Homo sapiens: one gene and its partner. The protein of the gene in region 1 interacts with the protein of each later gene in a pairwise test. Each region holds a gene or a part of one and is shown on either strand. Other genes may lie near its edges.

Region 1 (3,182 bases):
CAATCAAAGGGACCCAGACCGGCACCCTGCCCGCCTACCCTGCACGGCACCACCGATGGCCTCCTCGGTGAGGTCCCGGGCGCTGCCCCACGAGAGGCCGGCGTCACGGCTGGCCACACAGCAGAGGCGCGCGGCGTTCCTTCCCGTGGCGATCTGCACGGCCTCAGGCGTGTGGCCCAGCACCGCGATGAAGAAGAGGAAGACGGTGCCCGTGCCAGCATCGTGCACAGGGCAGGGGTTCATGGACCGGTGCTCCGCCAGGGCTGCTGTCCCCAGCACGTGCAGGGCACCCCACTGCCCAGAGGAGGAAGTTCCGCTGACCAGGACGTCCAGGGACCTGGGCACAGCCCCCCGCAGGGCACCCAGGATCGCTGAGCCTGGTTTGCTCATCTCTACCTCGGGCATCTGCCTGCCGCCGCCACCCCCGCCCCATCCCGGGGTGTGCAGCCCCAGCAGATCCGGCCACTACACCCACACAGAGCCCCCGGCCACTCACTCACCCGCACGGAGCCCCCGGCCAGCGTGCCCCTCCTCAGCACCAGGCGGTGGGCGTGGGAGTCGTCAGGGCTGAGCCGCTGCTCCACAAAGGCCAGCAGGGTGGGCCCGGGGGGCACGGGGAGCAGCGAGGGCACGCGGTAGGTCAGGCCCGTCCTCTCCCGCTCGAAGAGCACTGTCCGTGAAGGGGTACGAGGGACCCCCATGCTCTGCTGGTCAGTACAGGGCCACAGGTCAGCAAGACAGGCCCAGGGAGCCCCACACTCGCTCCCGGTCTGGACTGGGGAATGCGCTCAGGAGGTGCAGACAGCTCCTGCCCACACCTGGGCCTCTTCCTGTACCCACCTTGGGGTCAGCCCTGTTTCTGACTCCCTCACCCCAGATCTGGAGCAGCCCCTCCCCCACCCTCCCTCGCACCCACTCCACCCCAAATGTCTGTGGAATCAGCCCCTTCCCCTCTCAACACGGCTCTGGGAGCTGACCCTCGGCCAGGCTGGTTGGTGCCAGGGTGCAGGGGAGGCTGGCCAGAGAGCCCCCGGGACCCTGCCAGCCATGTGCCCAGGACACAGGGTCATCCCAGAATTCGCCCAGCAGGAGGTCATGTGGACAATGAGGACCCAAAACCTCGAGCAAGGAGGAGCTCAGTGTCCCCAGAATAGAGGCCACAGCACCGTGGAAGCCACAGCAGAGACACAAAGAGGTGAGCCCACAGGGACCTGTGGGAGCCACGGGGCTCTCTGGGGACAGGGGATCGGCTCCCACTTCCTGAACGTCATCGGGGGAGTCACGGGGCTCTCTGGGGACAGGGGATCGGCTCCCACTTCCTGAACGTCATCGGGGGAGTCACGGGGCTCTCTGGGGACAGGGGATCGGCTCCCACTTCCTGAACGTCATCGGGGGAGCCACAGCCAGGGATCCTGCAGGGGACAGGTGCTTGGTGATCAGACCCCTGCCTGCAGGCAGCTGGCCCCACAGTGCCCTCATTCCAGTGCCTGGTGCTTCCCACCTGCAGGGCCCTGACCTGAGAAGCGCCCACAGGAATCAGAAGCTCCAAAGCCGAGTGGGGCCCGGCGGCCATTCTGGGAGTTTGCTCCCAGGCAACACCCACCAGGGCAGGGCCCGGGTGAGGGGGCATTTGGGGCACGCATGGGGTCTGCTTGTTGCAGGCGGGACCTGCCTGGGGGGTCTCTCAGTCTGATCGCACAAAGGCAGACGGAGCCGAGCGTGAGCACGCACAGCCCGGCACAGGGAGGTGGCACAGCTGCAGACAGTGGGAACGCTGGTCCTCCACCATGCAGGAGCGGTCAGATCCACGGCCAGCCGCCCAGGCCGGGCACACGGGGCACCTGGATGCGGGGCTAAGGGAAGGAGGGAGGAGGGAGATGGCCGGATGCCGGACACCACGCCTGGCCAGGGCAGAACGCCTGCCTACGACGGGGACCCATGCACACCCACGGGTCAGGCGGGACCCACTGACAGAGACCCGGGTAAAGGCGCAACACTCGTGTAAAACCCAAGCAGGCCTTGCCCCGACACCTGAGGCCCAAACAGACAGCTCCACCTCCAGCCACCTCTGCCCTGGGCCACCGGTTCCTGAAAGGCTCTTGGCTAGGACAGCTGGCCGGCCCCTTCCTGCCGCTCCCCCACCACCAGTGCGCGGCTTCTGAGAGCAGCTTCCGTCCCCAAGAAGCCCCTGGCTCTGCTCTCAAAGGGCAATTGTGCCCAAGCGGGAAGCAGGTGCAGACGCCATGTGTCCCTCTGGGCTGAGCAGGCACAAGCAAGACATTCTCTCTGCACTTGGCTCCCTCCCCAAGGCCCGGACCACAGGAGCAGGTGTCAGCACCCCCTGCAGACATGAGGCCCAGGCCCACCCCTGGGGACAGAGAGGGAGAGGAGGAGACTCCAGAAACCAGCTGGTCACTCCCCTTGTTGCACAGAGGGGAAACTGAGGCCCACAGAGAGGACAAGGCTGACACACACTTGGCTTGGGGCTTCCTTGCCACGGCCAGGCCCTGGGTTCCACAGAGCCTCCGTGTCCTCCATGTGGCCAGGCCCTGGGTTCCACAGAGACTCTGTGTCCTCAGGAGGTCCCTCTGTCTTGGGGGACCAGCCGTGCTCAGTGTGGCCAGGCCCTGGGTTCCACAGAGCCTCCGTGTCCTCAGTGTGACCAGTTCCCTGGGTTCCACAGAGCCTCCGTGTCCTCGGCAGGCCCCTCTGTCTCGGAGGCCAGCCCCGCTCAGTGTAGCCAGTTCAGCACATTCCAGGGGTTTGGCTTGACTGGGACAGCCATGTCCTGGACATTAACCAGTGCCCCCCGCCCTCCCTGACAGGGCCCTCCTTGGGGGTGTGGAGTCACAGAAGGGGAAACCGAGGCCCAGGGGAGATGGGACCTCCAGGAGAACCTGGCCTTCTGGTCCGTGGACCCCTGGACCGGTTGTAGGGGTCACTCTGGCTCAGCAGGGGGCCATCACAGACCACCCCCCCCACCCCCGCCAACCCCTCACAGCCCATCCTGTGTGGGTGCCCCAAGAGCCTTGAGGTCAGACCAGGCCCTCCACGCACACCCTCTGGGGTCCGCACACACCCTCTGGGGTCCACGCACACCCTCTGGGGTCCGCGCACACCCTCTGGGGTCAGCACTTCTTGTCGTGGGAAGTGTCAGGTGCAGGGTAGGAACATCTTGGCGA
Region 2 (3,286 bases), on another chromosome or scaffold:
CTTTTCAGCTCCCTTTCTCACTGAGAGCCACTTTCATCAGCAATAAAATCCCCCTCATTTACCATCCTTCAGTTTGTTTTTGTGACCACATTTTTCCTGGACACCGGACAAGAGCCTGGGAGCCATGAGTGCCGATATAAAAGGCTCTCACATTCGCCATTTGCCCTTGCTGGTGGAGGGCAGCTGTCCCACATGACAAGGCAAAGGGCCCACTGAGCTGTTAACACTTAAGCCGTCCACAGACAGCAGAGCTAAAAGAGCACTGTTAACACATCTTCTGGGGCTTCAGGAATCGCAGGCAACCCCACCTGGATGCTACCACAGGGCCTGCACAGTTTGTTCCTGCCCATGCCAAAGCGGCCAGCCAGTTCCAGTGCTTGTACACTCCAGTTCCTGCCTTGTTTGCCTGTGCACTCCCTCCCAGGAGGAGTTGAGAATGGCAGGCTGAGTAAACAAGGCACCCCTGTCTCGAGTCCTGTGAAGGGGTCAGGGAAATATCCTGCTTCAAATGTACCATCATTTAACTGAATGAGTGCTCAAAATACCATCTGAACACATTTCGTTTAAAAACAAAAATCAAATATACAAAAAAATCAAGTTTTTATTTCAAATATTTGAATCTAATAGATCATTATTTAGGTTTATACTCTGTGAATATATATATGATATTGTATTTAATTAATATCTGAGTAATCTCAATTACCATTTTCTAGGAAGGATAGAGTGTAAGAGCTAAACATTTCATGTAGAAATATTAACTTTCAAAAGTTATAATACCAGAGTTTTAGAGTGAAGGAGTATTTAAAATGTGTCTTTCTTTGGGAGAGAATCATTTTGTTCTTTACTAACAATAATTTGAAAATTGGTAATTTAATATCTTGTGAATATGAAAATATTATGGTATAGATTAGCTTCTAGGAGAAGTTAAGTGTAGCATGATTTCTTGAAGATTAAAAAAACATTTAACTTTTTAAAGATAATATGCATATTGAATATTATTTGAACATAATAGTAAAGAAAATTATCTTTGAGCTTTTTTGAATATATGGCATTTGCAAAATAACATTAGCTCTTATGCATGAAATAAATTGTAACTAGATTTAATAGGACAAGATATAATTTATATAAAAATTAATAAGGCCTTAGTTAATATTTGGTAGTAAAATGGACAATGAATCAGAGATCATAATTCAAAGCAGTTTTTCAAAGGAAGTTTCATTAATAAATGCAAAAACTCATATGTCCTTTTTCTCAAATTGACAATGAGTATTAAAAAATGTACAAAAACCTTTATAAATCAGTTATACAGAAGATAAACTATAATTTGAAAAGCAAAAGTATACAACCAGAGCTACAGGCCTTACAGCTTAATTCATACAGGTATGAGTTTAGATAGTCTCAATCAATATACAGACTTCAGATTTCCTGAGGAGACTTTCACTAATCCACTACCACACTCCTGATTTTTGTTCCTGGCTGCCAGTGCTTTCAAAAAACATGAAGTCCTAGATAAAAACAAAAGTATACAAATGAATTTTCAACAACAAAACAGAGATCAATTATCAGATGCAGAAATACTAAGGGATCTAGTGAAACACAGTAACAAATCTGTTAAAAAAATTAAATGTAATAAGTAAATATACAAAAGCTCTATAATTATATAAGTTCTGCCTTTGGCTTTCCATTTTAATAATAAATTCTATAATTCTATTCATTTATTGATACCTGTATGAATTTAATTAATCTTCCAGTCATTTTCTCTAAATGTTACTTTTTCTCTATCCCCATAATTCTCATCTTTGGCTGCATACTGGAATCACCTGGAACACTATATGAACTTCGAAGTTTCTGATTTAGTTGAACTGAGGTATGGACTAGTCCTTGGAGTTTTTAAAGTCCCTAGGTGGTTCTAATGTGAAGGCAATTTCAGAATCACTGGTATATCCAATTATTTCCTGTAATTTGGTAGTTAGGTCTACACACTTGAGTGAATGTACACTCTTATTGTACTTCATACTCCTATATTAGATGGTTTAATTTAATTACTATGAGTCATGGTAAAGTTTCCTTGTTTCACTAAATTTTTTCCACATATGCCTACTTTCAACTTCTTCCTCAAAGCATCTAGGAGATGCCTGATTTAAGGGGAGACTAAAATCTCTCCTTAGTACATCTCCTTAGTCCCCCTCTTGCCATGTGAATATTCATAGACTCTTCAGGTAGAAACTAGTCACCTGTGACCCCAGAGTGTCAGGATCAAATAGAATTTCAGAGCTAGGATTAAATGGGAATCCTGATTTAAAATCTATAAATTTTAAAATGTCATTTTGAAATATACACTTTACTGAATCATTTCAGAATGAACCTAGAGAAAGCATCTATAATCAAGATTAATAAGAACAGACTTACAATGAGGAAACAGGCACCAATCATTACAGCTTTCATTTTAACATCAAGGTCTAAAGGGAACTGGATTCCAAAGTTATCAGCGTCTGTAAATGCCTCTCTCAAAATTCCAGTCCAGTGCTTGGAAATTTTGCCAACCACACACTGTTCATCAAGAGATTTAATCTAAATTGAAAAAAAAAAGTATTAAATACTTTTAGGAAACTTATAGCAAAAGTACTTTCAAATTTGAAGTAAGATGAAACAAATATGGTATTAAAATTATGCACCATATGTAACCCTCATTAGATAACTGGAGGCTCCTGTATCTATTTATAGATATATGAAAAAAACTGTTTCATTGTACGGAGAAATTATATTTCAGAAAGTTTTCCTGAAATATTTAACAATTTCTATTTTATATTAATATAGACATTAATAAATTATTTGAATTGACCCAAAAGAAAATTTAAGCAAAAAAGGATATAAATATGAAATGTTTCTTTGATGACATTTCTAGAAGCCATCAGGAAGTTAATGAACAAAACTCCTATTAGACTTCTGCTTTAGGAGAAGCACAGTTTACACAGACTGAAAGATTAAATATGATGAAAAGGCTTATTACTACCCACTGTGAGTTGCCAAACATGAAATGCTAAGCACCTAGAAAAGATTAGCAGTTTGGAGTAAAGGCAAATACCAATAAGTAACTTGATGAAATGCCCCACGCCAAGGGTTGAGGTTGAGAGTGGATAACTAGTGGGGTGTGAATAAAAGATGAAGAGTGTATGAACAAATGAGCTCCGAAGTAGAAGTTTCCTAATTTTACAATTCTGCCTGAGGAAAGCCCAGGGCCATCATATAGGGTTGAATGGACTTTGCTCAGACTAAGGCAACTCCT

What was found.
Region 2: the proteins of NEU4 (region 1) and PLSCR1 interact in a two-hybrid assay, tested with the Homo sapiens proteins (one large-scale study listed by BioGRID and IntAct).

The regions. Positions count from the first base shown.
Region 1 is NC_000002.12:241,812,004-241,815,185, reverse strand, and holds part of NEU4 (sialidase-4), read right to left. Parts: intron 1,854-3,182; exon of another isoform or gene 1,673-1,853; intron 708-1,672; coding exon of another isoform or gene 702-707; coding exon 501-701; intron 295-500; coding exon 39-294; intron 1-38. UniProt on the Homo sapiens protein: Exo-alpha-sialidase that catalyzes the hydrolytic cleavage of the terminal sialic acid (N-acetylneuraminic acid, Neu5Ac) of a glycan moiety in the catabolism of glycolipids, glycoproteins and oligosacharides.
Region 2 is NC_000003.12:146,514,597-146,517,882, forward strand, and holds the end of PLSCR1 (phospholipid scramblase 1), read right to left. Parts: intron 2,572-3,286; coding exon 2,410-2,571; intron 1,506-2,409; coding exon 1,449-1,505; 3' UTR 584-1,448; downstream 1-583. UniProt on the Homo sapiens protein: Catalyzes calcium-induced ATP-independent rapid bidirectional and non-specific movement of phospholipids (lipid scrambling or lipid flip-flop) between the inner and outer leaflet of the plasma membrane resulting in collapse of the phospholipid asymmetry which leads to phosphatidylserine externalization on the cell surface.